Regions from separate parts of the Homo sapiens genome. Here regions 1 and 2 are each linked to region 3. The links come from fine-mapping of genetic effects on gene expression. A gene starts in region 3. Each other region holds a variant in brackets. All regions are shown on one strand. Distances are between the middles of the regions. Region 1 overlaps RGL1 (ral guanine nucleotide dissociation stimulator like 1). Region 2 overlaps COLGALT2 (collagen beta(1-O)galactosyltransferase 2). Region 3 holds the start of RGL1 (ral guanine nucleotide dissociation stimulator like 1).

What was found. PIP is the estimated chance that this variant, and not a neighbour inherited with it, causes the effect.
Region 1: its variant is the best candidate, but not a certain one, in a credible set for the expression of RGL1 in whole blood (TOPMed, PIP 0.87).
Region 2: its variant is the best candidate, but not a certain one, in a credible set for the expression of RGL1 in lymphoblastoid cells (GTEx, PIP 0.55).

Annotation. Positions count from the first base shown.
Region 1 is chr1:183,896,744-183,907,122 of GRCh38, forward strand. RGL1 (ral guanine nucleotide dissociation stimulator like 1) reads left to right here. Exons shown (of 18, transcript NM_001297671.3): 10 at 1,065-1,154; 11 at 3,407-3,493; 12 at 5,825-5,857; 13 at 8,107-8,228; 14 at 10,269-10,358. Among named protein-coding and RNA genes, the nearest start is that of RGL1, 97 kb to the left of the region's middle. RefSeq lists an enhancer at 1,379-1,538. The variant C/T (reference allele first, on the strand shown) is at 5,452.
Region 2 is chr1:183,941,060-183,950,697 of GRCh38, forward strand. It overlaps COLGALT2 (collagen beta(1-O)galactosyltransferase 2), which reads right to left. Exons shown (of 12, transcript NM_015101.4): 9 at 4,373-4,505; 10 at 3,137-3,264. Among named protein-coding and RNA genes, the nearest start is that of COLGALT2, 92 kb to the right of the region's middle. RefSeq lists enhancers at 3,741-4,583, 4,584-5,426. The variant C/T (reference allele first, on the strand shown) is at 2,495.
Region 3 is chr1:183,801,425-183,811,803 of GRCh38, forward strand. It overlaps RGL1 (ral guanine nucleotide dissociation stimulator like 1), which reads left to right and starts at 3,696. Exons shown (of 18, transcript NM_001297671.3): 1 at 3,696-3,900; 2 at 4,951-5,061. The coding sequence starts at 3,874. RefSeq lists enhancers at 5,316-5,375, 6,119-6,168.

The DNA of each region.
Region 1 (10,379 bases), 95 kb after region 3:
CACTTAATGTTCAGTCAGCAAACTCATGATTACTCATTATATAGAAGAGTTTGTTGTTACAATAGACAGGAGGAGAGAAAGGGTAGCCATGTGTCCTCAGGCACCAGGAGGAAGGATTGATTTGTAAGAGTTCCAAACCTGAGAGGCAATTTAGAAGAACTGACTGGGGGCTGGGGATGTGTGAAAGTTCGACTTTTATGGATTGGTCATGTAGTACAATATTGGACTTCCTCAGAAAACTTCCGGTGCAAAAGTTTCATTTAGCTAAGAAATGCTACAGAAGTAGTCCCTTTCTTTCACAGAATGCTGGCACATCCATTTCAGGCCAAGATCGAGAAATCACAAAATGTACTGAGGAAGTCGATCTTTGTTTTCAGGATATCTGATTACTTTGAGTTTAATTTGGGATCTGTAAAAATGTCTTCATTTATGAGAATTGCCTGGCTTGTATTGATGATTGCTTTCATAACCAAATCAGGTGATCTTCTTACAAAGTAAGGGGAAGGCCAGGTGTGGTGGCTGGCTCATGCCTGTAATCCCAGCACTTGGGGAAGCTGAGGCAGGTGGATGATCTGAGATCAGGAGTTCAAGACCAGCCTGGCCAACATGGCGAAACCCCATCTCTACTAAAAACAAAAAATAAAATAAAATATAAAAATTAGCCAGGTGGTGGCGCATTCCTCTAATCCCAGCTACTCGGGAGGCTGAGGCAGGAGAATCACTTGAACCTGGGAGGCAGAGGTTGCAGTGAGCTGAGATTGCGCCACTGCACTCCAGCCTTCCCAGCAGAGTGAGACTTCGTCTCAAAAAAAAAAAAAACAAAGTTGGGGGAAGAACAAGAAAATCCAAGTCCACCAGCCTCGTTATAAATAGGCAACTTGCAACAAGCCAGCCAAGTATTTGCATAATATACATCGTGAGAGCCTGCTGGAGGCCTCTTCATTTTGCATGGTGTTCCGAGCGAGAGTTATGCAGGGTTGTGTGCGAGAAACTAGATGCCTCTTTACTTCTTACCATTGTGGCATCCTGTATCAATTCCCTCTGTGTGCATTTCTGTTTCTCAGGAAGGAACCTCAAAATTTGCAAACCTGGACAGCAGTGTGAAAGAAAACCAGAAGCGTACCCAGAGGCGGCTGCAGCTCCAGAAGGACATGGTATGTCTGGCCCTCGTCTTCCCTGACAGCTCACAGAGGAGAAGGGCCGTGTGCGTCTGGGCTCCCACATGGCACTGGCACCTTCAGTCAACAGGGCACCCAGGCTTTCAGAAAGGGTCTCCCATTCTCTACCCCATTTGTTCTCAGCAGCCCTGGGAGGTCTATAGGAGAGAGATGATTACCCTCATTCAACTAGTAGGAAGTAAGCACTGGGTGGCAAATCCTGTTTTCTGGCAAAGTTGTTTTCTGAAGGTGAGGGGGAGTCTACAGCAGGTCGACTTCCTCCCTCTTGCAGTCTCTTCCGCCCCCTCCTGCACTTAGAAGCTGCTCCACCTTGGCCTGAGGGCCTCCTGAGCTTCCTACTGTAGTCAGCTTCTGATACATGGTGACCAAGGAGAAAGAGTGTCTTCTCCACAGGGCCCTGGTCCTTGTACTCAGAGATCTTTTCATTTGTTCTAATCTAGCCATTGCCCAGCTCTCCTTACTAATCCCAAGGCTAACCAAATCTTTATAGTTTTTCAATATTTAAAGGAGCATCATGCCTCCCTCCTGAAGACTGAAAGATAGGTATTATCAACTTTAGCTTCATTTTAAACTTCTGACTGTTAGCATAAAGTGTGGAAGACCAGAGGGAGGAGATTAGAGACTGACAAACTCTAAATATTCTGCTTTAAGAGGGTTTTCTCTTTCTTTGGAAAGCTCAACGTAAGTAAGAAATGTTTTTGAATGATAGGACTCTTCCGCAACATGAAGCCTATAAAACATTCACAGTGTTACAAACTTTTTTGGTTGTTCAAAGACAAGCTAAAAATAGCTGTTACCAAAAAAATAGATTATTTTAGTACAGGATGAGACCTTGTACACAGAATGGGAAGGACACACTGCAGCTGACAGTGAGTTCCTGAAGGACAAAACCCTCCTTGGTATGAACCTCACAAAGCAGTTCTGGCTGAGGAAGCAGCCAGCCTCATGTCAAGCAGCCTGGCTTTACCCTGTTTGAGGCTTTGTGTTCTGCCAAAATTTCCAGAATTGGCTTGATGAGATTTAGGATAAGGGATCCATGGGGACCGCTTTTTACTTTTCCTTTAGGATGTTTAGTGCCTTGGTGGCTTACTGAAGAAGAGAGATGATTTTAAAGGAGATTTAGTGAAATGAATATAGTGTATCCCTGCAGTTGTAGGTAGAAGTGCCTCCACCTTCATTTCCAACTTTTTATTCTGGAATAAGTTTAGATTTACAGAAAAGCTGCAAAGCTAGAAGTGCAGTTTCCCTCATTGTTAACATCTTCTAAAACCATAGCACATTTGTCAATACTAAGAAACTGACACTGGCATAATACTATTAACTAAAATCTAGACTTTGTTTGGATTTCACCAGTTTTCCACTAGTATCTTCTTATCTGTTCCAGGACCCAATCCGGCATACCAACTGCATTTTGTTGTCTGTCACCCCTGTCTCTTCAGGTCTACGACAGTGTTTTCTTGACTGTTTTTTATGACCTTGGTTGTCTTAAGGGGTCTATCCAGGTATTCTGTAGAATGTTCCACAGTTTGAGGTTGTCTGCTGTTTTCTAGTGATTAGACTGAGCTTCTGGATTTTTAGAAAGAATATCACAGAGTAAAGTGCCCTTCTCATCACATCACATCAAGGAGTGAATGAATGGTTTCAGCGTGACATCTGGTGTCATGTTGATGGTGACACGAATGATGTTGATCTTTATTACTTGGTTAAGGAAGAGTTTGCCAGGTTCTTCCTCAGAAGTTACTGTTTTTCTCTTTCCCTCCTCTATTATTTGAGAGTTAGTCACCAAGTCTAGCCCAAGGGGTTATATTAATAGTGATGCCCCATGCTTTTGTGGTACATACTTCTCTGTGTACAACAGCCAATGGTGAGGCAATGACTATCCAGTGCCATCCCCAACTACCAGGAATGTCCCCATGCTCTGAAAGAGAACAGACATCCTTCTCACTTGAGCCAAAGCAAAACATAAACCCCACAGTCAACACTTTTGAACAGATGTGTATGATCTCCTGGCTTTGAGGCTTGGTTTTCATGATTTCACAAGTTAGATATTAGATCATGGAGTTTCTATCCTATTTGTGTAGAAATTTAAAAAATGTTATTCATGGAGGTTAGCACCACTGGCCCGCAGTTAGGCCTTGAATACATCCATTTGCTCCAGCTTGAAGATTCCTAAAACCCCTCAACTTTTCAATGACAATAAAGACAGTTTTGCTTTGGATGCTCTTCAGGGTGTGATGCAGGGAACTGTGCCCTACCTGGGCACCTTCCTGACTGACCTGACCATGCTTGACACTGCCCTTCAGGACTACATCGAGGTGAGTTCCATGTGGGTGGTGTGATCGGGCCTGCAGCCTTCCCACTGGATACCCTAAAGAGTAGTTAACTTCTCTTAGTATCTTTTGAAGGTCCAAAAGTACATGGCATTGTGCTAGCTGTTAGGAGGAATACAAAGAATAACACCAAAGACTAACACCAGAAGTGGCTCAAAATCCAGTGGAAGTAATTAATATATCAAAATAAGCAGTGAACGATAGTAATAATCGAAATTCAAACAAATGCATTGAGAGAACATGGGAGATGACAATTATTATTATTTTTTTGAGATGGAGTTTTGCTCTTGTTGTCCAAGCTGGAGTGCAATGGCACGATCTTGGCTCACTGCAATCTCTGCCTCTCGGGTTCAAGCAATTCTCCTGCCTCAGCCTCCCAAGTAGCTGGGATTACAGGCGTGCACCACCACGCCCAGCTAATTTTTTGTATTTTTAGTAGAAACAGGGTTTCACCATATTAGCCAGGCTAGCCTTGAACTCCTGACCACAGGTGATCCGCCCACCTTGGCCTTCCAAAGTGCTGGGATTACAGGCGTTGAGCCACTGCACCCGGCCCACAATGAACTCTTATGAGGGGTTGTGATGAACAGGGCTCATGAAGGAGTGGGTTTGGGTTTGAACAAGACTTTAAGGCCGGGCGCGATGTCTCATGCCTGTAATCCCAGCACTTTAAGAGGTCAAGGCAGGTGAATCACCTGAGGTCAGGAGTTCAAGACCAGCCTGGCCAACATGGTGAAACCCCGTCTCTACTAAAAATACAAAAATTAGGCTGGGTGTGGTGGCTCACGCCTGTAATCCCAGCACTTTGGGAGGCTGAGACAGGCAGATCATGAGGTCAGGAGTTCGAGACCACCCTGGCCAACATGGTGAAACCCCATCTCTACTAAAAACACAAAAATCAGCCGGGCATGGTGACACATGCCTGTAGTCCCAGCTACTCAGGAGGTTGAGGCAGAAGAATTGCTTGAACCCGAGAGGCGGAGGTTGCAGTGAGCCGAGATTGCGCCACTGCACTTCAGCCTGGGTGACAGAGCAAGACCCCATCTCAAAAAAAAGAAAAAGAATAAATAAATAAAAATACAAAAATTAGCCGGTCATGGTGGCAGGTGCCTATAATCCCAACTACTCTGGAGGCTGAGGCAGGAGAATCACTTGAGCTCGGGAGGCAGAGGTTGCAGTGAGCCGAGATCGTGTCATTGCACGATCTAGGTGCCCAGCCTAGGTGCCAGAGTGAGACTCGGTCTCAAACAAAAACAAACAAACAAACAAACAAAAAACCCCACAAGACTTTAATGTTGAGTAGGACTACTTGGTGGGGTAGAGAGTCAGTCAAATTTGTGATTTTTCAAATATGCTTTTCTTTTTGTATTGCTGCCTGCTGTGGGGTATTTTTCTCTCTCTCTGTCTCTCTCTCTCTCTGTCCCCTTGTCCCTCTTTCTCTCTGTTCCCCCTCTCTCTACCCCTACTCCCTTCATCCCCCATCTTCTCTGAAAGGGAAAATACATGAAAACTCAGATAAACAACTTGTTAGTAGCAGCAATAAAATATTAAGTGAAGAAGAAATTTCAAATTTGAAATGAAATTGAAAGATTGCTTGCATATTTCAGTATATACTACCCCCTTGTTATCATATGCAACCAGCCTGCTTTTATTGTATCTTAATTAGAAGAAGTAGAAGTTACTTTGCATAGATCTACCTACCTTTGGATTTGCCACAGTGTTGTGGACACATTTATTCATTTTGCATCTCCTGACTTCTATGTCTCTTCACATCCTCTTTCTCAGCTTATCTCAGGAAACACCCATCAGTGTTGGGGAATTCTGGGGAGTAACCAAAGATTTAGAAGTTAAATTCAGCCTACTGAGAATAGGAGCTGAGGGGATGAAGAATTGAAACTTAACTTTTCATGATGCTATGGAGAAATGACTTCCCTTTTGATAAA[C/T]CGTATGAGTCAATGACCATCTGTTTTAGTTGCTTTTGGTAAGGGAAAAAAGTGTAATGGAATATTTACTCAAGCTTTTATCTTTACTGGTTCTGCAAGTGTCTTTGGATCCTGATTTGTAATTATTTATCATTACTATTTTAGTTGGTTTCAGACATTTCAAGAGAAGGCTTTCTGCTTATCCTGCCTTATAATAATACTTTTTTTAAAAGCAAAACAGGACTCTCTTCTTCCACAGTAGTCGTAATTATAGGATCATTGATAATTGTGACTTTATCACCCCTTTGATCTATTTTAATGTGACCTACGACAACATATGGCTGTGTTTTAAAGTAGCTTGGTTGCTCACTCTTTTTATTAAAATTTCTTTTAGGGTGGACTGATAAACTTTGAGAAAAGGAGAAGGGTAAGTAGAGTTGTTGGCTGTGTTTCCTTTGTCTGAGCATGAAAAAAATGAAAGAAATGGGGACTTAAGTTTTTTTGTAGAGGCAGAAAAAAATGAGTTAGCACCTACTGAACGTTTATCATATACCATTTTGCTTGGCATTCTCCTATACATTATCCCCCACTAGCCTTATGAGGTAGGTTTTATCATCCTCAATTCAAAGGTGAGGAAGCTAGGACTCAAGAGATTAAATTACTGGACGAGAATCTCTTGGTGGCAAAGCCAGGGTTCTCATCCTGTCCTGATGCCCCAAAGCCCACATTTCTTCCCTGCCCACTCCTTATCTCCTTTACAATTAGCTTCAGCAATAGCAGGCTTGCCACTTAATTAATAACAATGTATTTTATACTTGAAGATTACTAAGAGTAGACTTTAAGTATTCTCATCACAAATAAATATGTGAAGTAATGCATATGTTAGTTAGCCTGATTTAGCCATTCCACGGTATATACATGTTTCAGAACATCATGTTGCACACCATAAATACAAACAATTTTTTAATTTGCCAATTAAAATAAAAACCAGGTTTACCCTATTAAGGATAAGGGGTTTCTGATGAGTAAATGACATAGAAGAGTTAATAAAGATGGTAAACTCTCGTGGGTATACTCGAGAGAGGAAAGGAAATGGCCTTCGTCTTCGGTGTAGGTAGTTATTCTTTCCCTTTCGTGTCAGCATAGGAAGGTGTGCTCAACATCAATTTCACTCTTCCTGTGGATAGCACAGTTCTGAACTGTGCTATTCAAGATAAAACAGTCTTGAAATTTTTCTGTGATTTTCATATTCAAATGGCATATTTAAATAGATATTTAAAAGACTCAAAGGAAAATGAGTGAGCAAAATAATAACTTCACCCTGTAGTACTCTCGTTATTTTTCAGTACTTTCACATTCCACAAATATTGACTGTCTACCTAACATGGGGGGGGTTTGGGAATTACAGCAGAGAAAGAACAGAGCTGCCTGCCCTCGTAAAGTTCACAATCCAGGAGAGAGGTAGACAAATAAATAGGCAGTTATAATACAACCTGAAAAGGGTTTGTGAGCAGAAGTAGTGGGTGTTAGAGAAGTATATAGGTGGGGTATCTATCTCCAACTTGTAGGGCCAGAGAAACTTCCAGGAGAAAATGACGTTGAAGTTAAAACCAAAAAGGCATAGAGGAGCTAAACAAAGCTGGGCTTATCAGAACAAGATACTAACCTGGACAAATGTAAATTTTTTGTCCCATATAGACGATACTTTTTTCTTTAGCATGATGGTAAATATTCCTTGAGGATACTGAGACCAAGGGCCGAGGTCACTGGATGGCAAGTTGAGACTTGGAGAATCTACCAGTTCTTGAGTTACTTCTGTCATGTCCTGTAATGATAATAAATTCAGTTATTGCCCCCTCAGTTCCCCTCTCTGTCATTTAACTTCAGAATAACTGTGGTTGGTAATCTCTTTCCTTTTTAGACTAGGATATTAAACTTCTGGAAAGTTTGACTGTAAAACCTAAACCTAAAGCTTATACCCATTGCTGACTTAAATTTTTTTTATTGAAACATCCAAATAAGTATAAATAATTTTCAACATAATTATGTACTTGCCTCTCTGTGAGTTTTAAAAGACTTAGTTAAATGATTTAGTGGCGTAGTAAAAACCCAAGGATTCAGGAAATCTAAACATTCAATTTTATGAGACCTAGGACTGTTTAGATACTCAGCCCTACCAAAACTTATTTATTGAGGGGTAAAGGTTGAGGAAGATGGGGATGGGGATCTTGGGAGCTCCCTGACTTAAAGTATTTCTTTTCTTTTTTTTAAGAAATATGAATAGAAATTAATATATTTTATGAAGTACTTAAAACCTTAAAAATCATTTTTCTATTCCAAGGATGAAAGTGAAGAAGAGAAAAAGGAAGCCACTGTAACTTAACGTAGTGACTAGTTTGGGTTGCTTTGGTAGCTTGTTTTATACAAATTGCTTTCTCAAGGAGAAAAGAGGATTAAAAATTAAAGCATACAAGGACTTTGGAGAGTTCTAGTTAGAATTTTTAAGAGTTAGTTAGCTCCTTTATTTTTAAGGAAGCAGTATTTCAGAATCCTCCTAGATGGTTTTCTTCATCTTTTATCCTAATGTGGTATATTTTCATGTTGAAAGATTCTATATTTGGTTGGCCTTATTATTCAGTCTTTTTTTTTTAATTTTTGGTATTCTGTCTGCTTTAGGAATTTGAAGTGATTGCCCAGATAAAGCTCTTACAGTCTGCCTGCAACAGCTATTGCATGACCCCAGACCAAAAGTTCATCCAGTGGTTCCAGAGGCAGCAGCTCCTGACAGAGGAGGAGAGGTGGGATCACCTGTCGTTCATCGGGGTAGAACTGAAGTGTTGGCAAGAAAAATGCTGCATTTAATACCTCGCTGGGTCATTTATTCAACAACTATTTAGTGAGCAGCTGCTAGGTTCCAGGTCCTTGGTTTTCAAAGGCGCATGGTGTGGCAGGAAAGGCTGAGTTGATAGCATCAAGATGTACTTTCAGACTCTTGCTTGGCCACTTATTTATCTTTGTAACCTTGAACAAGTCATTTGTTCTTCCCTATCTTAAGGATGCTCATCTGTAGAATGTTTGTGAGGCGTAACTAAGATCTTATGTGGGAATGCTTTGTTAGAATGCTTGTCCTCAGCGTTGTCACCACCACCACTGTCACTGTGTTTGTCATTCCTGTTAATTGATGGTAGCTTTCCAGGAAGCTTTCAACCTAGAGGGGTTGAGAGACTCATGAAACTTTGAAATATGATGGGTAACTACATTCCTACAAAACCTATGGGAAGAATTGGGGAAAATAAGGAAAATATAAAGGCATTAATATTTAGGCTGGCTGTAAAGGAGAAACAAGATTTTGCCATAAGAACCGGAAGAGAACATTCCAGACCGAGAGAGAACACAAGCAAAAGCTTGGTGGCCTGACATGTTTGGCATTTGAAGGAACAGTGATAACTCAGGTGTGGCAGGGACACAAAGAACAGTTTAAAAATAGTGGGATGGGCATAGAAAGGCATGTTCACTTGAGTGCCCTGCCTGCTGGCTCAGCACGTCCCTGTCCTGTAGCCTGCTCGCTTGTTGGCAGATTGGTCTGCAGGCCATATGTGGCCCACTGCCTGTTTTTACATTTTTAAATGATTGGGGTGGGGGGGAACAAAAAAAGAATATTTTGTGACACGAAACAGTTATTTGAAATTCAGATTTCAGTATCTACATAAATATGGTTTTATTGAAACACAGCCCGTTCATTTACATCTCATCTATGGTTGCTTTCATGCTGTAAAGACAGAGTTGAGTAGTTGCAACAGAGACCATATGGCCCACAAAGCCTAAAATACTATGTGATCCTTTACAGAAGAAGTTGGCCCATCCCTACCCTAGCCCAGGGGATTTCTTTGGAAGTTTATCATAAGGGAGAGTGAAATTGACAGCAAAATAAGTATTTACAAAAAAAAAAACTTGAGGTTTAGAGAAATATTTGAATGAATTAATGACAGCATTTGGATTCAAACTCAGGTCTGCCCGGCTCTACAGCCTAAGCTCTGAAGATGGCTGTATAATGTTGGGCACCCTTCCCCACCTACTCAGTAACGAAATACATCTACTGTCTACAGCTACAAGCTTTCATAAAAGGCACTTGGAATCACATATAAATTCCTCTTGTGCTTGTGTCAGTTATATCTGCCTGGCAGATAGAGGTCTGAATCTGGAGCATTTTTAATTTAGGAAGTTTTGGCAATTAAAAATTTAAAAAAGTATTTGTAGGCCACCCTGGCCAACATGGTGAAACCCCATCTCTACTAAAATAAATAAATATATATATATATATCTTTATCAGTAATGTAATTGCCTATGTCTGTTCATTGACGATCAGATAGATTACAAAAGTCTCTTCATTTTCTTTAGATAAAACTAAGTCATTTGTGCATGTGCACAAACACACATACAAAATAGTAGGAAGGAGGTAATAGAGAAGAAATAGGAGGGGGAGGTAGTAGAGGAAGGAAGATTCTTCCACTGGCCTAGCAGTGGGATGAGAATGATCAGAATGGAGTTAGTTTTTGATGCTGCCAAAGTGCATATATCCTTGTATTTGAAACACGCAGAACTAAATAGCCTCAATCCATATGCCAGTGGAGGTGAGGGAGGAAGCACATAAGATAAATGTGTCAAATCGGGCCGTGAAGTCAGTACCCCCTGACGTTTATGATAGGACAACGTTTGTATATATCTTTACTTTGAACAATTAGAGCCTTCTCTAAAACAAAACCAGGACATCATGTGAATTTAAGTGTGTTTTTCAATTCTCTAACTTTGACCTCATGGAGCCCCCTTCTCTTTCTCAGCTATGCCCTGTCATGTGAGATTGAAGCAGCTGCTGACGCCAGCACCACCTCGCCCAAGCCTCGGAAGAGCATGGTGAAGAGACTCAGCCTGTGAGTGTCCCCTGGGGGTTC
Region 2 (9,638 bases), 140 kb after region 3:
TTAAAAGATCTTTCAGATCATTTCTTAAAGATGGGATGGGGCTTCCAGCTGTGTTTACAGAGGTTGGAAAGGCACAAAAAAAGGCCAGATGGGAGAATCCTGAGGCTGCTGTCTTCAGGTCCCCAGAGTGTCAGCCTTGGATGCCTTCTGCACAGCACTCCGAGTGCTGGTGGGAAACACAGGACCAAATAAGCTGGGGGAAAGAGTCAGTCTGCAGTGAAGGTTCTGGGAACCCAAGAGTGGCCCTAAGGGGTTCCTTTTGGGGAGGATGAATGACAGCTCCTGACAGGCATTCTCCTGCCTCACACTCGTCCAGCTGTGGCCAGGCTTCCTCCCAGACATGCTGCTCTGAGAAAGGCCCCCCAGGCACCTTCCGTCCTCCGTGAACAACTTCTACAACACAGGATGCACCTTTGGCCACTCCCATCTTCCCTAGTCTACCCATGGATCTGTGCTCCATTACTTTTGTCCGGAACCTATTGATTTGGGCTTGACTGGAGCAACCTGAGGAGTTGCCTCCTTCTTGCCTGCCAGGTAAAGCAGTACTTCCTCTATTTTGCCCTAAAACAATCTCTTTCAACATTCAAGGGATTCCCCCTTGTGAAAGCATCCCAGGATTTGTAGAACAAGTCTATGTTCAATCTTCAGTTCTTCTGAGAACAACAAACATATATCCCCAGCCACTCTCTCTTCAGATTACGGAGTCTGAGCTTCTCTCGTGTCTCATCCAGTGGAAGGGAAACTCTTATCGAGCACTTGAGAGGAACTAGAGTGATAGAGGTGCTGAGTTAATGCTCTAACTTTAATTAATTTAATTTTAAATGTTGAAGCTGTGTGAAATATATATATTTTTTCCATGAAACAAGTTCATTGTTTTGGTAGGACGACAGTTTACTTTTTTTTTTTTTTTATGGAGCCTTGCTCTGTCGCCCAGGCTGGAGTGCAGTGGTGCAATCTGAGCTCACTGTAAGCTCCGCCTCCTGGGTTCATGCCAGTCTCCTGCCTCAGCCTCCTGAGTAGCTGGGACTACAGGAGCCCGCCACCATGCCCGGCTAATTTTTTGTATTTTTACTAGAGACGTGGTTTCACCGTGTTAGCCAGGATGGTCTCGATCTCCTGACCTCGTGATCCACCCGCCTCGGCCTCCCAAAGTGCTGGGATTACAGGCGTGAGCCACTGCGCCCAGCCCAGTTTACTTAAACAGCTGAAAATTTAGCTTCTGGATTGAGAGGTGTTCTAAGTGTAAAATACATACCAGATTTTGAAGAGTTGGTACAAAAAAAAAAAGAAGGTAAACTATGTCATTAATGGTTTTAAAATATTAATTACATACCAAAATGATGATACTGTTTGGATATTTTTGTTAAATAAAATGTATTAAAACTAATTTAGTCTAATTTATTTTTACCTTTTTAATGTGATTACTAGAAAACTGAAAATGACATATGTGGCTTGCATTATATTTCTATTGAACAACACTCCCTCAATGATTCCAATGACTTGTTCTATTCTTCCCTTTTATTATTTTCTTTTCCTGGAAAGATGTAATGTGGCAATCATGAACAGCTTATTACCTTTCATGTTTTAGGTTTAAGTAACATTTGTTTCTTTTTTGTTTTAGAAAATAACAGGTACAATTTAAAACTGTTACAGTTCTTTAAGACTATATAATAGATTTTAAGGGGATATTTTGACTTGATCAACCTGTGAAATTTAGAAAACATTTTTTTCCTGTATCCTTATCAAGACAACTGTTCTTCCTTCTTGCATCTGTCGGTACTTTGTCCTGAGAAATGCACCCACCGAACTACATGTGAACGGGAACGTATGCCAGCTCTAAACCTTAGATTCTCTGGGCTCAGTCTTCTGTGATTATGAGGCTTAAGTGAAGTTGCCTTTATACAAGTCACGTGGACATCAAGTAGCTTCCAGGCCTGTGAGGCCTTAACCACAGGCTGCGGAGCCATCCATTGAGAAAGGCTGAAGTGCAGCGACTTCTGGAGGATATAGGAAGAAACAGTGATCTCAAGGGACTGTGCAGAATGCCAAACCAAACCACATGACCACATGACTGAAATCTGACAGGGCATAGGTGTCTTATTACACAGTGACGCATTAGTTGAGCCATTGCTAGGTTTCTTCTGAGCTCAGAGTGGCCCATTTTCTGAGGGAACAAGTATTCCACCTGGGCCCACAGTTAAATACCGCCTGTGGGTGGGAGAAGCAGGGACAGCTCCTCTGCTGCAGCTGCTCCAAAGAAGCAGGCTCAGAGTTGATGAATTGCCTTTGACACACAGCTGGGAGCAAACACAATGCTTGGGAACTTTCTGCTTCATTGGAGAGAAATTGAAAGTGTCATTTGTTTTAAAAAGAAAATGAGAGAGAGAAAGGAGGAGGCAGAGGAGGAAGAAGAAAAAGGAAAGAGGAAGGGAGAGAGGGAGAGGAAAAATGAAAGGGAAGGGAAGGAAAAATGAAAGGGAAGGGAAGAAAAAAG[C/T]AGAAGCCACTCAATTCCCAGAGAGTAGACAAAGAACATTAACTAAATGTCAGCTCAGAGCCAGCACTCCCTTGGTGAGCCTGGTTTTCCTGCATCAGCCTCAGACCCTTCCCCAAATCTAGTTGTCCATGTTCTTCATGTTTGTGCAGCCCCATTTCCCAACAGAGGAGCTCCCTGGCTGACCCTCTAACCTCCCACCTTCTCGGAAGCTGCAGAGGCAACCTGCTGTCCCGGGAGCTGAGTCTTAAATATGACACAGGACTTTAGAGCTTGAATAAATGGCCTCTTCTCCAGCTTCACACCCACTCCATGTGCCACGTTAATTGAGGGTGGGATTTCTGCTGTGCTCCTAAGTAAGTGCTCAGTGCCACACCTTGGTTCTGTCTGAAGGTCCCTGATCTGCAGGCCGACTCCAGGTCTCAGACAATCTTCCACAGTTTCCCACCCTGAAGAGTAGAAGGATGCAAAATCCAGTGGCTAACCTCTACCCATTTTTATTTCTGAGAACATTTATGGAAAGAAAACTAGATAAGTGGAAGCTTAAGCTGTATCTCCTACTGGCTGTGGAGGTGGGGCTCTCTGCGCATTGGAAAGGACTGAGTGCCTCTCAGAGCCCTCTCGTAAGATCATCTTGTCACTCACATCAGTTCCCAGTCCAGCTGAGCCTGGTCAATGTTATCCATCAGCTTCATCAGCTTCTTCTTAAACTGATGCTCAAAACGCACATCGTCTTCAATTACAAGAGTCTTCTCTAGCTCTCGATCAATTACCTGCAAAAGTCATCAGTAGGAAGATACCCTATGAAAAGTTTGAAACCCAATTTTTATTAGATAAATAAGTATTAAAAAGTCACGAGTCTAGTAGCACAGATTCATAACTGGAATCTAAGCAAATGGCCATCAACAGTAGAATAGATAATAAACTTTGGAATATTCACAGCAGTGAGGATATATGATCACAATTAAACGCAACGTTATAGGTGAATCTCCTAAATGTCATGTTAGGAGAGTACACATACTGCATGATTCCATTCATATAAGGGAAAGTACAAACAAAGGTAAAGCTATTCAATGCCTTTAGAAGTCAGGATGGTGACTGCCCTTGGGGACTGATGACCAGAAGGCAGTACGGGGTGGGGGGGTGCTTGTGGGATGCTGGTTACCTGCTTCTGGATCTGTGTACTGATTAACATGGGTGTGTTGTTTGGTTTGTGAAATTTCCCTGAGCTGTATCTTTTGATCTATATCTTTTTATACCTATTTATCACATTTCACTTAAAGTTTAAAGAAAACAAAGGCAGGCATAGACTGGATCATTAAAAGAGAAAGTGTTCAAGGGGCCTTTCTTCAGGGACTTTCTTTTTGGTTGTGGAAACTGACTGTTTATCAGGAACCCCACACACCAATATCTGCTCCAGATATGTCTTGATCTGTAAGACAGGGGTTCCACTTCTGGCTCTGCCACTTCTTACCGGGTCAAGCTACTTAATAATTTCTTCTTCGGTAAAGGTGGTCTGTCCTTCCCAACCCACCTCACATGACTTCTGTGTGATTTCTTGTATAAAATCACTTAATAAGTGATGTCATAATAGGTATAATAGAAGGCATTCCTGCTAATGATGATAATGAATTAATAAGAGTGTGGCACACAGGACATGGGTGTCTCCCCCGTCACCACCCCAAGTGGCACCAAAGCTACTCCTCCTTGCCCCTTTGTTGCTGGTCTTGGGTCAGAGGGAGACACAAGGCAGGAGCAGCTCTCATGCACATTTCCAGAACAGTTGCGGGCTCACTTTACATCTGGCCCTAACTCACCTACGATAGCCTGCTTTCCTTTCTCCTCATCATAAAACTGCAATCTGAATAAAGCATTATTTACCTCTTTCCAGACTGAGTAGTGGCTGAGAAAGCAGCCGATTTCACCCCTTGTTAGAGGCCTGGAGGAATAGGGATCTCGATAGCCAGGCAGCATTTCAATATTCAGTGCCTTCAGCTGGCTTGTGTTGAGTGCCCTGCATCACATAAAACACGTCTGGAGATTAACAAGTCAAAGGTCCCCACCACAAAGGCCAGAGAAAGAGAGAGTTAGTTCTGCAAACACCCCTCCCCCACACAGACAAAGACAGAGAGGCTTCCCTTTATTCCTTAGAAGTTCCTCCAGGCTAATGTGTCACACTAGTATTATGAGGTCTGGGAAGACAAGAGGGTATCATATTTTTGTGTATCCCTCATAGTGCCCAACATAGTTCTAAGCATCATCAGTTTTTTGACAAGATTTAATAAGTACACTCCTATGGAAATTAGTTAAAGTACTGCAATAATCCAAGGAGTGTTTGATCAAGACCTACTGCTGAATCTCTGTTAACACAGTGAGCTTTGTGAAGTTCACAGCTGCCCTAATCCTAACCTGTTCACCCCAGCCCTACAAAAGCCTTGAAAACCAGTAGCCTCACAACTAAGAGAGCGGCAAACCCCACCAACCCAGAAGCCACTGGCAGGGACAAAATGGACTGAGACTCCCTTAAAGACCTGCCCCCAGAAAATAATCTCTATTCAACCTGTCTAGTAGCTCCTTGAAAAGCTACATTCTCAGAGCTTGTCTTGATTTGACCTGACTCAGAGTTCATTTTCTGTGAACAGCACTATCTGCAGGTCATTTGTCAAAACCCATGAGCAACAACTGTTTAACATTACAGCTGTTTGAGAAGCATTATCAGCTGATGCTAACAAGAAGCCCACCAAAAAACTTAAAAGGAAAAACCAAGGAATAAGAGGTCCATAGGGAGTTTGATTTGCTCCAAAATATCCCTGAGAATCTAGAAGGCCCCAGGCATATTCAGGGCTGTCCACACGCCCAGGAAAAACTTGAGAAGTCCCTAGTCTCTCACCTCTGGCTGACCTTAAGGATCTGGAAAAAAATGTAGTGAAGGCAAATGAATAAAACACTGCAATGAAGGAAGAATTTGGCATAGTAAGTTTTAAAAATTAATACAACCATGTGGTATCTATAAGAGGCAGCCTTTAGATTAAAAGACAAAAATAGGTTGAAAGTAAAAGAATAGAAAAAGATATACCATATAATCAGCAATGACAAGAGAGCTGGCAGAGCTATGCTAATATTGGGCAAAATAAATCTCAGACAAAATTCATGCTAGAGCCAAGGAAGGACATTTTTTAATGATAAAAAGGTTAATCTGGGCCGGGAGTGGTGGCTCACGCCTGTAATCCCACGACTTTGGGAGGCCGAGGTGGGCAGATCAGAAGGTCTGGAGATCGAGACCATCCTGGCTAACACGGTGAAACCCCATCTCTACTAAAAATACAAAAAATTAGCCGGCCATGGTGGTGGGTGCCTGTAGTCCCAGCTACTTGGGAGGCTGAGGCAGGAGAATGGTGTGAATCTGGGAGCTGGAGCTTGCAGTGAGCCAAGATCGTGCCATTGCACTGCAGCCTGGGTGACAGGGCAAGACTCCATCTCAAAAAAAAAAGGTCAATCCATCAGGAAGGCATAACAATTATAAATACATATGCACCTAACAGAACCTCAGAACCATGAAACTGGAAGAATTGAAAGGAGAAACAGACAATTCAACAATAATAGGGGAAGACATCAATATCCCACCTGCAATAATAGAACTAGGCAGGAGGAAGACAAGGAAACAGAAGACTTGAATAATATCTTAAAATAATCAGACCTAGCAGACATCTATAGAACATTCCACCCAACAATAGCCAAATACACACTTTCAAGTGTGCATAGAACATTCTCTAAGAAATACCATTTTTTAGACCATAAAGACCATATAGGTCATAAATTAAGTGTCAGTATACTTAAAAGGATTGAAATCACACAAGGTATGTTCTCCAACCTCAATGGTTTGAAATTAAAAATCAATAACCAAAGGAAACTTGGGAAATTCAGAAATGTGGAATTAAACAATACACTCCTAACCAATGGGTCAAAGAAGAAATTGCAAGGGAAATTAGAAAATATTTTGAGATGAATGAAAACACAGCATACCAAAACTTATGCGATACACTTAACATAGTACTTGGAGATATAGTTACAGCTGCAAATGTCTCTAGTAAAATAGAATATCTCAAATAATAATCCTCCCATCCATCTTAAGAAACTAGATAAAGAGAAAATTAAACCCAAAGCAAACAGGAGGAAGAAAATAATAAAGGTTACAGTACAAATAAATGAACTAGAGAATAGAAAAACAATAGAGAAAAATCAACAAAACCAAAAGTCAGTCCTCTGAAAAGATCAACAAAATTGACAATTATTTGCCTAAACTGATGAATTAAAAAAAAGTAAACTCAAACTATTAAAGTCAAGAATGAAAGAGGGGTCACTCCTACTGACCTTATGAAAGTAAAAAAGATTATATGATAATACTATGAACAATTGTATGGCAACAAATTAGATAACCTAGATGAAATGGACAAATTGATAGGAAGGTACAAACTACCAAAATTGACTCAAGAAGAAATAGAAAGTAAATAAATAACAAGAAAAGAAGTTTAATTAGTAATAAAAAAAATTTCCATAAAGAAAAGCCTAGAACCAGATGGCTTCACTAGGGGTTTCTGCCAAATGTTTAAAAATTGTTAACACGAATCTTTCACAAACTTCCAAAAAAAAAGAGGAGGAGGGAACACATCCCAGCTGATTTTATGAAGCCAATATTATTTTGATACAAAACCAAAAACATTATAAGAAAACTGCAGACCAATATCACTTATTAATATAGATGTGGAAATCTTCAAGCAAATACTAGCAAGAGAATCCAGCAATTTATAAAAGGAATTATACAGCATGACCAAATGGGTCCCAGGATTATCCCAGGGTTGCAAGTTTGGTTTAACATGTGAAAACCAATCAAAGTAACGTACCATATTAACAGGCAAAAGTCACATGTTCATCTTAATAGACACGGACAAACCATTTGACAAAATCCAATACCCTTTTATGATAAAAATACTCAACAAAATAGGACTAAAAGGGACCTTCCTCAACCCAGTAAAGGCCATCTGTGAAAAACCCACAATTAACATCATACTTAGCAGTGACGGACTGAATGCTTTCCCTCTAAGATCAGGAACAAATCAAGAAACTGCACTCAACAGTTCTATTCAACATTGTACTTGATGATCCAGCAAGGGTAGTTGGACATGAAGAAGAAATAAATGGTATCCAGGTTTGAAAGGAACATATAACACTATCTCTACTTGCATGTGACATGGTCTTGTATGTAGAAGATCCTAAGGAATATACACACACAAAGGAAAAAGTACTATTAGAACTGATAAAAAGGGTTCAGCAAGGTTGCAGGATACAGGATCAATATACAAAAATCAATTGTATTCTTATTCATTTAGCAATGAACAATCTGAAAATAGAACTAAGGAAATAGTTCCATGTACCATAGCATCAAAAGAGTAAAATACTTAGGAGTATATTTAACAAAATAAATGCAAGACTTGTATACTGAAAATGACAAAACATCATTCAAAGAACTAAAGAAGATCTAAATAATAAAAAGACATTCCATGATTACGAATCAGAAGACTTCATATTGTTAACACGGAAATATTCTCCCAGTTGATCTACAGACTCAATGCAATTCCTATCAAAATCCCAGCTGCCGTTTTCTTTATTTGTGGAACTTGACAAGCTAATTCTAAAATTCATATGGAAAAAGTAAGGGACCCAGAATAGCTGAGACAAACTCGAAAAAGAATAACAAAATTGAAGGACTCATACTTCTTAAATACAAAGCTACAGTCATCAAGACGGTATAGTACTGGCATAAGGATAGACATATAGATCAATCAAATAAAATAGAGAGTTCAGAAATAAATCCTTACATTTATGGGCAACTGGCTTTTTACAATGGTGCCAAGACAATTCTACGAGGGAAACGAAAGTCTTTTTAACAAATGGTGAAGGGACAAATGGATAACCATGTGCAAAAGAATGAATATGGATCCCTGCCTCATGCCATATACAAAAATTTACTCAACATAGATCAAATACCTAAATGTAATAGATAAAACTGTAGAACTCTCAGAAGAAAATTTCATGAAGTAAATCTTCATGGCTTTGAAATTGACAATGGATTCTTAGGTATGACACTAAAATTACTAGCAACAAGAACAAAAAATAAATTGGATTTCATCAAAATGAAAAACTCTTTTGCTTCAATGTATACCATCATGAAATTGTGACAATCAATAATGCATAAAGTTAAAGAAAATATTTGACAATTACATATCTGATAAAGGACTTGCATCCAGGATATATAAAGAACTCTCACTACTCAACTAGTTTCCCTGGTCCATGTGGTCTATGAATGGGACTGGTGTTCTTGGAGGTATTTGAAGCAGTGGTTCCTAAACTCTACTGCACCCAAGAATAGGGCTGACAGATTTAGGAAGTGAAAAACACAAAACACTCAGTCAAATTTAAGTTTCAGATAAATAATGGATAATTTTTTAGTATAACCAAGCCCCATGTGATGTTTGGGACAAATTTAACTGGCTATCCAGTATTTTATGGGGCAATCCTGTCTAAGAATCACCTTGAGGCTTCTTAAATGCAGATCCTGGGTCCAGCCTCAGAGAGCATAATTCAGCAGGTCTGAGATGGGACTGAGGGAGCTGTCCCCTTAACCATCCGTGGGGACTCTGATGTGAGTGTCCAGGTCACACTTTGGGAAACACTGATGAGATTCTCTAAGGGAGTCATAAAAACTTCAACAGCTGCTAGCCATACTCCTTAGTTGGAGTTATGCAAATAGAAAACAAAGCTACTGATATTCTAAACCAACATATAACATGGAAAGGCACATTTTATAAAAATCTATGCCTTGAAATAGTTTAGGGTGTCAAATAAAAGGGCAAAGCTGAACAAAATAAAAAAAAAAAAAAAGAAGGGATCTAACTAGGTTCCCTGTGTTACTTTCCTGCCATATTTCCAGGAAAAGTGGCCACTATGATCGGTCCAGGCAGATTGTGGCAGGCATCTCATGCAACAGGAAATGTACACCTTTATGCATTTTCCATCTATTTTCTTCAGATTGACCAAGTTTCAGCACTTTATGCTCTAATTCAGCTCTGAACACAATTCTGAACACATT
Region 3 (10,379 bases):
ATTTTCTCCCATTCCATAGGTCATTTATTCACTCTATTGATTGTTTCATTTGCTGCACAGAAGCTTTTTAGTTTGATGTACTTTCACTTCTCTAATTTTAATTTTCTTGCCTGTGCTTTTGGTGTGATATCCAAGAAATCATTGCCAAGGCCAATATAATAAAGCTTTCCCCCTATATTTTTATCTAAGTCCTTTGTGTTGCTATAAAGGAATACCTGAGAGCAGGTACTTTATAAAGAAAAGAAGTTTATTTGGCTCATGGTTCTGCAAGCTGTACACAAGAAGCATGACGCCAACATCTGCATCTGTTGAGGGCCTCAAGCCACTTTAGTTCATGGCAGAAGGGGAAGGTGAGGCAGCGCATGCAGAGATCACATGGTGAGAGAGGAGGCAAGAGAGAGATGGGGGTCATACTCCTTGTAACAATCAGCTCTCACTGGAACTAATAAAGTGAGAACTCACACAATACCTTGAGGATGGTACCAAGCTATTAATGGGGGATTTGCCTCCATGATCCAGACACCTCCCATTAGGCCCTACCTCCAACACTGGGGATTAAATTTCAACATAAGATTATGAGGGGTCAAACAAACCAAACTATAGCAATTTTCTTTAAGGAGTTTTATAGTTTCAGGTCTTATGTTTAAGTCTGCAATCCATTTTGAATTGATTTTTGTGTATGGTGTAAAATAAATGTCCAATTTCATTCTTTTACATGTGATCTAGTTTTTGTACAAATGTTTTCCCAGCACCATTTGTTGGAGAGATTATCTTTTCCTTGTTGTATATTCTTGGCATCCTTATTGAAGATCAGTTGACCACATATGCTTGGGTTTATTTCTGGGCTTTCTGTTCTGTTCCATTGATCTGTGTGTCTGTCTTTATGCCGGTACCATAAAGTTTTGATTACTGTGGCTTTGTAATATGTTTTCAAATCAAGAAGCATGAGATCTCCAGCTTTACTCTTCTTTTTCAAGATTGCTTTGATTATTCAGGATCCTTCGTAGTTCCATTTGAATTTTAAGGTTATTTTTGCTATTTCTGTCAAAAATACACTTGGGATTTCGGAAGGGATTGCATTGAATATGCAGAAAGTTTTGGATAATATGGACATTTTAACATATTAAGTCTTTCAACCCGTAAACACGGGATGTCTTTCTATTTAGGTGTATCAGCAAAAAAAAAAAAAAAAAAAAACCCTTATAAACTAATAAACAAATTCAGTCAATTGCAAAATAAAGAATTAATGTGTTTCTATATACTAACAACAAACAATCTAAAAGTGAAATTTACAAAGCAATCCCATTTACAATAGTATCAGAATAAAGTACCTTGGAATAAACTGAACCAAAGAGATGCAAGTCTTGCTCTCTAAAAACTACAAAACATTCCTGATCTTTTAACAAAACTTAACCTATCCTCTCAGGACTCTGTTAGGTCACGGGAAGGCTAATGTGGTAAATAAACACCAACTGAGTTATAAATGGCTTACTGGTTTGTCTTCCCACATATTGACCAGGAGTACTTTAACCCAAAGGTACAGGTAATAAGGTAATATGGACTGAACTGCCTACTGATGAAATATTTTTAAATGAATATTAAAAAATTTGTAAACTGCAACACACAATTGCTCTATCTAGCATAAAGTCTGCCTCTTTTTTTGCAGAACAGCATTTGTACAAAATTACATACATTGTGAGGTGTAAATACAAATAGTTATTCTTGGAAAACCTCTCTGAAATTTTAAAGTAATTCCATGAGAAGACATCATTTCAGATTTCCTAGTGTTGCATACATAACACGCTTTTCACTGAGTCTGGATAAATATGGTTTGGGAGGAAGTACAATAAGGAGGCAGTGGAATTTTTTTGGATCACTTACCATGTGCTTGATGATTTGCATGCATTATTTCATTTGATCTCTTTCAAACTCTTTCAGGTAGATGGTTGTCCCATTTTGCAGATGAGGAAATTAAGGCTCAGGGTAGTAGCATTCAGGTTCACTCACTGCAAGGCTGGATGTGAAGCTGTATCCACTTGGCTTGAAGCTAGTTCTTTTCCCTTTACACACTAGGTGGCCAGCCAGGGAATTGGAGTACAGAGAAAGGTGAGTAGCTCTGAAACCTGAGTGGGGCCTTGTGAATTTAAGCCGCCCTGTCCAGGAAGGTTTCCTGGGAGAGTGAGGTTGAAGAAACTGCTTAATATCCCTGAAATGGAAATATTTCAGTTACTGCCAAATGTGTAGCCAAAAATCAGGTTAAAGTAGTGGTGAAGTTAATCTTACAGGTTGTTTAACTGTCCTCAGTTGCATTTCGTGGTGTCCAAGATCACCTAATAGGTCCTCTAGAGGTGGGCCTGGGTTCCTGAGGATGGCTTAACAAGCAGGGAGGTAGGGCCTTCACATGATTTTCCTCTGGTTCCCAGCAACATTCTGCCCTGATCATCATAGAAGGATTTAGTCTATGTGTTTTTCGTTCGTTTGTTTTTTAAATTATAGAACAACCACTTCAGCTTGCTAAAAGGGCATCTCCTCTCTATACAGTGATGGTGCCCTTAGGTTCTGGTTGTATGGGGATAACCTGGCTGAATGACTTGTAGATGTTCTCAAGTGTCCACAGATCCTTTTGTTTTTGCTTAATGTGCCCTTGCTGTCATTTATTCTGCTCTCCTGGGAACATCAGTACACTTGATTTGCTAAATTGTCAGCTCATGATATATTTACCATTAACCAAAACCCAGGCTTATGTCATAGTATGGCAATTAGTGGGAGACCTATTTTTTTTTTTATTTGAAGGTGATTAAATTCATTTAGGGTGAATAGTATGAAAGACATGAGCCCTAAAGGTATTTGCAATTTGCATGGAATTCTGGCAGGTGTCAAGTTTGACTGCATTATCTGGTATCTCTTGCTGTTGACTTGTTAAAACTGGATCTAAAAAAATGTAATAATCTTTTATCCCTATAGCAGATCTTTCCATTATGATAAAACTCCTGCTGGTAGTCATCTGATGAAGAACTTTTCCCTGTGGCTATGATCCTACTGTGTCCCTACAGTACAGGCAACTCAACCCATGGTGGCTACTCACAAAGACTCACAGAACCTCCAGGACACTGTCAGTCCTAGCAAAACCTTACCCTGCTTTGTTCCCTTCCCACCCCCAATGGCCAGTTACTGGGTAATTGGGGTGGTGAAAAGCCCAGCGCGATTTCCTGTTGGCAGTGTGCTGATGCAGGAGAGGGTATAGCCCCTGGGCATGGTTTTGGAATACCCGGGTGTCCTCTGACCTTATCCTCTGTCCTAATGAAAAACTTCCTGGCGTCTAGTATTGCGGCTCTCACTGGGGTCATTCTGACTTAATTATTCTAAAATCAAAATAGATAATAGGCAGATAATGGAAGTTTTTTGGACTTTCTCCTTCCATTGTTTTAGCGAAGGAAGAAGACACACACAAATCCTCCATCCCACACTCAGTTCTATTTTGGCACCTGGTGACCGTCAGGAAAACCTGATAAACTTGAAAGTGTTGTTTCCCAATCACCTTCAGAACTGGAGAAACGCTTTCATGCTGACTTTATCCATGGGACTGAAGAAAGGGAGAGTGTGCTCACAAGCACAAACAGGAAAGCCTTACATCACGGAGTGGCGTGGGGAGGAGTCTGCTCCTCGCTTGCTCGCTCGCTCGCCGCGCTCCCTTTGTGGCCCGAGTCGCGCGCACCGGCGGCGGCGGGGGCAGCGCGGCGCGTGTCTGTGCGCTGCGGTCGCTCGGGACCGGGACCGGGGCGAGGCGCCGCGGGGCTGAGCCCAGCAGACATTGCGTTGGCCTCCGAGCAGGGCGCATCATGCAGCGTTCGCGCACCGGAGAGAAAACTGAGAATGAAATTGCTTTGGCAAGCTAAAATGGTAACGAGAGCTCTCTGCCTTCTCCCGAGGCTTCTCTGGTGGGGAATCTTCTCCCGCTTTCGCTGGGCGTGTTTTGGACTCCCTCGGAGTGAACGGAGCAATCCGATTCCATACTTGTGAGCTAAAGCTCTCTCACTCCGCTTTGTATTCCTCTCTCTCTGCGTGTCTTCTCCCTTTCAACCGTACCTACTTTCTCAGCAATTGCCTGTGGTGTGTCTGGGGCAGATGCATGTCAGGAGGGGAGAACTTTGAAGGAAAAAGAACTGTTAGTGTGGGTGAACCGCGGAGCGCTTCTGCGTCCCAGCGGCTCTTTAACACAAACCTCAGGTTTAGCTGGGGACATGGAAATCCAGGGGGTCGCTGCACAGATTTTAGTAGAAGCTGCCTGATGATGTGTTGCTTTTTCTGCACTTGCCAGATTATTTTACGGAAATAAAAACTTTCCACCCCCGCTAACTTTGTGGGCTCCAAAACAATGAGGAGAAAAGACAAGCAAACCACTTCACTTCCAAAGGAGTGAGGACTCTTGGCGTTTTAAACACTTGTTTGTGTCTGAGTTTAAAATCTGGTTTCTTCAATGACCGAGCCACTCTAAAAAGTACAGACTTATTCTTTTCTTTTTTTCTTTTTCTTTTTCTTTTCTTTTCTTTTTTTTTTTTTTTTTTTTTTTTTTTTTTTTTTTTTTTTACAAAGAATTATTTTTCCTTTCACTTAAGGGGGACAAGTTAATCAGGACTAATCTAGTTTCTTTGTAAAGAAAAAGAAAGACTTCAAAACAAAACTATTTAAGATATGTGAGCAAGTCTAGGAGAAATAACTAAATGGAAAAGTCAGGGGATCCTGATACCACAGGAAGGGACTGCAAGCCAAGAAAATCTCAGCATTCCCTCTATCAAAATGTGTCTTGTATTGCGGATTGTAATATTTATTTTGAACAGCCCATCTTGTGCCCTGAGTGCTGTTGTAAGCAGCAAGGCAGCTGGGATAGATTGTGGTTAGCAGAGAGGAAAAAAATACTCTTTTTCTTTCTCTTTATCCCGTCCCTGGCAGAGCTCGATTCAGGACTGGGGTGAAGAGGTAGAGGAAGGAGCTGTTTACCATGTCACCCTCAAAAGAGTCCAGATTCAACAGGCTGCCAATAAAGGAGCAAGATGGCTAGGGGTGAGTAAAGCTGGCGAGATGGTGAACTTTGGAATTTCAGTGTCTGTCGTTCTGTGAATATCATTATTATTTAACAGAGGCAGGCTTTTTTTTTTTTCCTCTTTTCGCTTTAAAAAGGAAAATGCTAATGACCAAGTGTTTGCACTAGCTGAACAGGTCTCTTTTTGTATTTAATGTTTTCAAAAGCATCTTCCCTAGGTTTGTCAATAATTCAGAACCTCTTAGAAACATCTTGAGGTCTTTGGCAAATAGATTGGGGGTGGAGTGGCAGAAAATGACACACAGAATACAGGCCCAGAGAGCAGCACTCTCTTAGACAAGAGCCATAAGCAGCTTTGCCCAGAAGCCACCCTTGTCTCTCTCTGCCCTCCCCCAATTGATGCTGTCAGCGTCTGCCTTGCTCCTATATCTCTAGGAGGTACCCAGATTGCTCAGGAGACAGAGCATTCCAAGTCTGCATCCTTTGAGGGGTGGTAGATTTCCTATTGTGATCTCTTTTCTATATCTTGGGAGGAGGCAAATGGATGCTTAGTACCCACTACTTTGTGTGTAGAGTGGTGGGCCTTTGGAAAAATGCTGCTTCTGTAAACAGGACTCTTTTCCACTGAGATTGTAAAATATTGGGTGAGGTCATGCAAGTTTGTAGGTATCACCTAGTAGATCCTTCAACACATCCCAAATAAAGCGAATATGAGAAATGGAAAGCTCAGCGACAGGATCACTACTTGGGCAAATGTCAAACATGTGGAAGAATGAAGGGATTCTTGATCTGGAAGGAGAAGTAGTTCTCAGACCAGGCGGTGAGAGGCGACCCAAAAAGCCTTGAGAAAGAAAATAATGGTTGGCTGAATAGAGGGGGTGGAGTGTGATTTCACCTGGCTGGCCTTATTTTAGCCGATGGGCTTCAGAGTGTTGAAGATTTATGCACTTGCATCCCATCTTTAGCGGCTTGGAGTCTCTGAAAATTCAGAATATTTTGAGCAGCATTCAAAGGTGGAGTGTGAAGGAGGATAGGACACAAAATTGCACAGGGCCTCCTGTTAAGAGTAGTGGTAACGTGTGACTTGTAACTCCAGGGAGTTTAAGGCAGGATGGTGGCCCATGGCCGGCAGCAATCACTTCCTCTGCCATGAGTCTGCTGACACAGGCATTCATTGCTTTGGGCTTCCCCAGCTGCTTCAGCTCAGGCCTTTCCTGCTACTGTACTTTGGGCCAAGGTATCACCCATGAGGGCCAGAAATTGTTAATGACATCTGCAGGTGTGGTCTGGAAAGATAGGAGCTTTCCAGTGAGAACTAGAGGTCTTCACTTACCAAGTACCTACCTTACTCAGAATATGATTTTAAAATTAATTATGTATATCACTAGCAGACCTGATAGGGAAAGCAGAACTAGAGTTCTGACAAGTCATCACTTTGTTTTTGGTGGTTGTGTGTATGTATTTTATTTAAATGTGGCGTCCATGTGGTTTGGCCTCTAGCTATTTCAGAATGATTCACAACTTCTGAACCAGTTGTCTTCAAAAGGGTCATTACATTTTTTTGGTATCAGGTTATTCCTCTCTTTCTAATGAGACTGACTTTGCTTGGGTGACTGTTTTAGTTTTCAGCCATATACAACATTAGTTATGAGTAAGTCATTGGAAATGGAGGGGTTCACTCTGTAGGCCCCACATCTACAAACTGTCATGTATTTAGATGCTCAGAGTTATTTAGTAATCCCCACTGACTGTTCTCTTCACTAGACTTCACTTCTTTTCTTCTCTCTCCCTTCTCTCAGTGTTCTCAAATTTATACAGAGTTCAGAGTTAATTCACCCTGGATTCAACAGTAGATATGAAATACTGAGAAGGAGGATAATGTGAAAAGATTGGCTCTAGTTGATGGAGGAATCTGTCCCCCTCGCCCCCATTTCAACAAAGTGTGATTTACTGCTACCAGCCTACTCCTTTATTGCAAGTTCCTAGGGGCTCTCCAGCTCTAATCTACGTGTTTTCTTGTCTTAGGTGTCCTGTTGGGAAGTTCTGTTTTTGTCCTTGAAAATTCCAGACTTAATTAAATGTGACTCAACCCATTGAGCCATAGCAATTACAAACCTTTCTCTTTAGAACTGAGTGGCTTCCCCATGTTTGTTTTCCTGTATTCCAGTACCCTTTCAAAATTCTTCAAAGTAACTAGTTTCAGAGTTACTAGAGAGTGGGGTCAGGTGAGGAAATTATTGCAATATGACAACAACCTTCTGAGGAAGGTGGTGTTGTGATGATCTCTCTCTCTCTCTTTTTTTTTTTTTTAACATGAGGAGACTAATGCCCAGAGAGGTTAAATTGTTTGCCAGGGTCACACAGCTATGAAGTGGTAAACACCAGATTCAAATCCAGATGGTTGGCTCTTTGTTGTGAAGAATTTCCTGGGACCTTAAGGCTGTTTCCATAGTAGTAGAAAAGAACATTGGCTCAAAAGACTGAGGATGCTTTGGGTGTGCTTTTCCCTAATGTTGCAAGACTGGAGAGATGTAACTTTCTTTTCTTCATGTCTAGAATGATAACTTGAGCTGCAAATTGAGATATTTGTTGCGAAGCTATGATCTCACTGATAAACTCCCCATTTTGGAGGTTTAAAGCAGGGTGCATTGAAGATATGAAGATACGTATGAGGTTATGTAGCATGTGAGGATAGGCATAGCTTTGTTACGTGTCTGTAATGCTTATTCCAGATGCCTAAAAGATGGAACATAATTTTTGTATTTTCTAGTATTCAGATCTCAAAACATAATTAAGATTCAATTTTGGGGAGGAGAGCAAAATAATTACATATCCTCAGATGTGAAGTATTATACAGTCCAAAACATTTAGGTCATTCTTTTTTATTTTGTCTGTTAAATTCTGTGTTCAGTTGATCTTTTAAAGTAAAACTCTGTGTTTGGAAAACTACAACCAAGTATGTCCCAGGCCCAGTTTACTTGTACGTGCAGCTGCATCCTTGCCCATTGACGGTGAGATTATATTGGCAACTTTGAAAAACCAAATATTATTGAAATACTGACCCATTTTCCCTTTACAATAACATCTTTGGCTGGGATAATTTTACCCACCTATAATTCTCGAAGAAAAATGACTTCAATTATGTCACAAAATTTAAAAAATCTTAGGATTGGAAGAGACATTAAAGAGCAATTCCGAGCCTAGCACAGTGGCTCATTCTTGTAATCCCAGCACTTTGAGAGGCCAAGGCAGGCTAATTTGCTTGAGGCTGGGAGCTCAAGACCAGCCTGGGCAACATAGCAAGACCCTGTCTCTACTAAAAATAAAAATAAAATTAAAAAATTAGCTGAGTGTGGTGGTGTGTGCCTGTAGTCCCAGCTACTTGGGAGGCTGAGGTGGGAGGATCGCGTGAGCCAGGGTGGTCAAGGCTGTAGCGAGCCATGATTGCACCACTGCACTCTAGCCTGAGTGAGAGAGTGAGACTCTGTCTCTTAAAAAAAGAAGTAATTTCACCCAGACATTCACTTATCTTGTGATTTTTGGAAGAGCAAAGTGTCAAAACTTGTTATTTGTCTTTGGTCCCAGTGTTGTGGTTGTATATGGACAGTGAATAATATAGAAAAGAGTTAAGAAAATATCAGTATCCTCTGGAAGCAGGAAGTGTAACATTTCAGGATGAATACTCAAAGGGACAGAGGAAAAGAATTCAACTGTTTGGGAAGGGCTTTGGTGTCAGAAGTTCATGCTGTTGTCTTCAGAATATGACAGACTCAGGGTCCAAAAAACATGTCAGCCTAAGATAAGTTCCAAGTGAGGATATTTTTTTTACAAGCAAGATTGTGAGTGCTAGGTCACTTCTGCAAAATTTGTGGGCAGTGGAATGATCAGTGGTTAGTCACGTGGCTCTTCTTAGTCCTGTACTTCTGTGGTCATGCAGTCCTTGTGGTGGGGCACTGAGGCCTTTCTGCCCTGTGTCCAGTGTTTGTCACACCGTTTCCCACATAGGCTCTTGATAAATGTTTGTGGGACTGAGTTGAAATGCAAGATAGATGGGAGTCTGGTAAAGAGAGGGAAATAGAATGGAGAAAGTTGAATATATGTAGAAATAAAAGAACCTAGAAACATTAGGTCATAGAACGTGGCATTTGGGCAAATTGTGGCCAATCATGGGTTATGTGGGGACTGTGGTAAGATAACCATTTGTCACATCTGGATTGAGAAGTTGACTCTCACTTGGATGTTCTATTTAGATTGACTCTACCTGGCATTTTCATGGTGTTGCTATCCATGTTGCCTTCAAATGGCATACAGTTCCTGGAGTTTTCAGCTAATTTCACTTCTGGGAGCCTTCTCTAATCCCCCAGCTCTGGATGAGGCGTCCCTTCTGTGTGCTCCAGAGGCATTCTGCGTCTCACTGTTGTGCATTTACCTCACTCTGTTGTAATTGCCTGTTTACTTGTTTGTTATCTTCCATTAGACTGTAAGCTTGCAACCATGGCCATCTAGTTGGCAGAAACTCAATACATGTTTGTTGAATGAATAGGTCATGCCTCATCCTTCTTTGGGGGACTAATATTGTTTTTATAAGTATGAATGCATAGTTGGTTCTCATTTAAAACAAAGTCTACATGAAGATGTTCACTTACAAAGAAGAAGAAAGGGGCATGGGAGCAAGAAAAATCAATTAGGTAATGATTATAGCTGTCTTACACCCATTCGAGAACAAAGCAGGGCACAAAGGTATCAATTATTCATTTTAACGAACATTCCCCAGTGCCTTTTAAAACCAAGAGGTCCAGTTGTACTTCTCTTGCTGCTGAATGTTGAAGAAAAAAAAGGCAATGCATGAGTTAAAAAGCATTGGCTAGCATTACAATTATGTGTGGTTGGAAAGTGCAGGAGTGGGATTTTAGAATTGTAAGGAGATAAGCCCTAGAGGAGCCTTTAGTTTATAGTTGGTCATCCTTGTTTTCATCTAGGAAAACAGGCCCTTGGGTTGCATTATATGTGTCTATTGGAATGTTTAATTTAGGCTTTAGAAAGTAGATTTCAGAATTTAGCAGCTATGTGTAAATGAACCAACTGGTATTTTTAATTTTGACCTTAGAAACACGTTTTTAAAATTATTAATCCACTGATAGGGTAGCCTCTACCAATCAAGAAAATTTAGTAAATTTAAATTGCCTGAGATATTATTACACTGGATCCTTTTGGTGCTAGTGCTTTCAAATTCTGTTGGGATCTGTGTTAGGAATATGTGACATGTAATCAAGAATATCCATTTCAATTCACCAATCCAGGGAATACTCAGCTGAGTTCAAAATACATGTCAACTCCC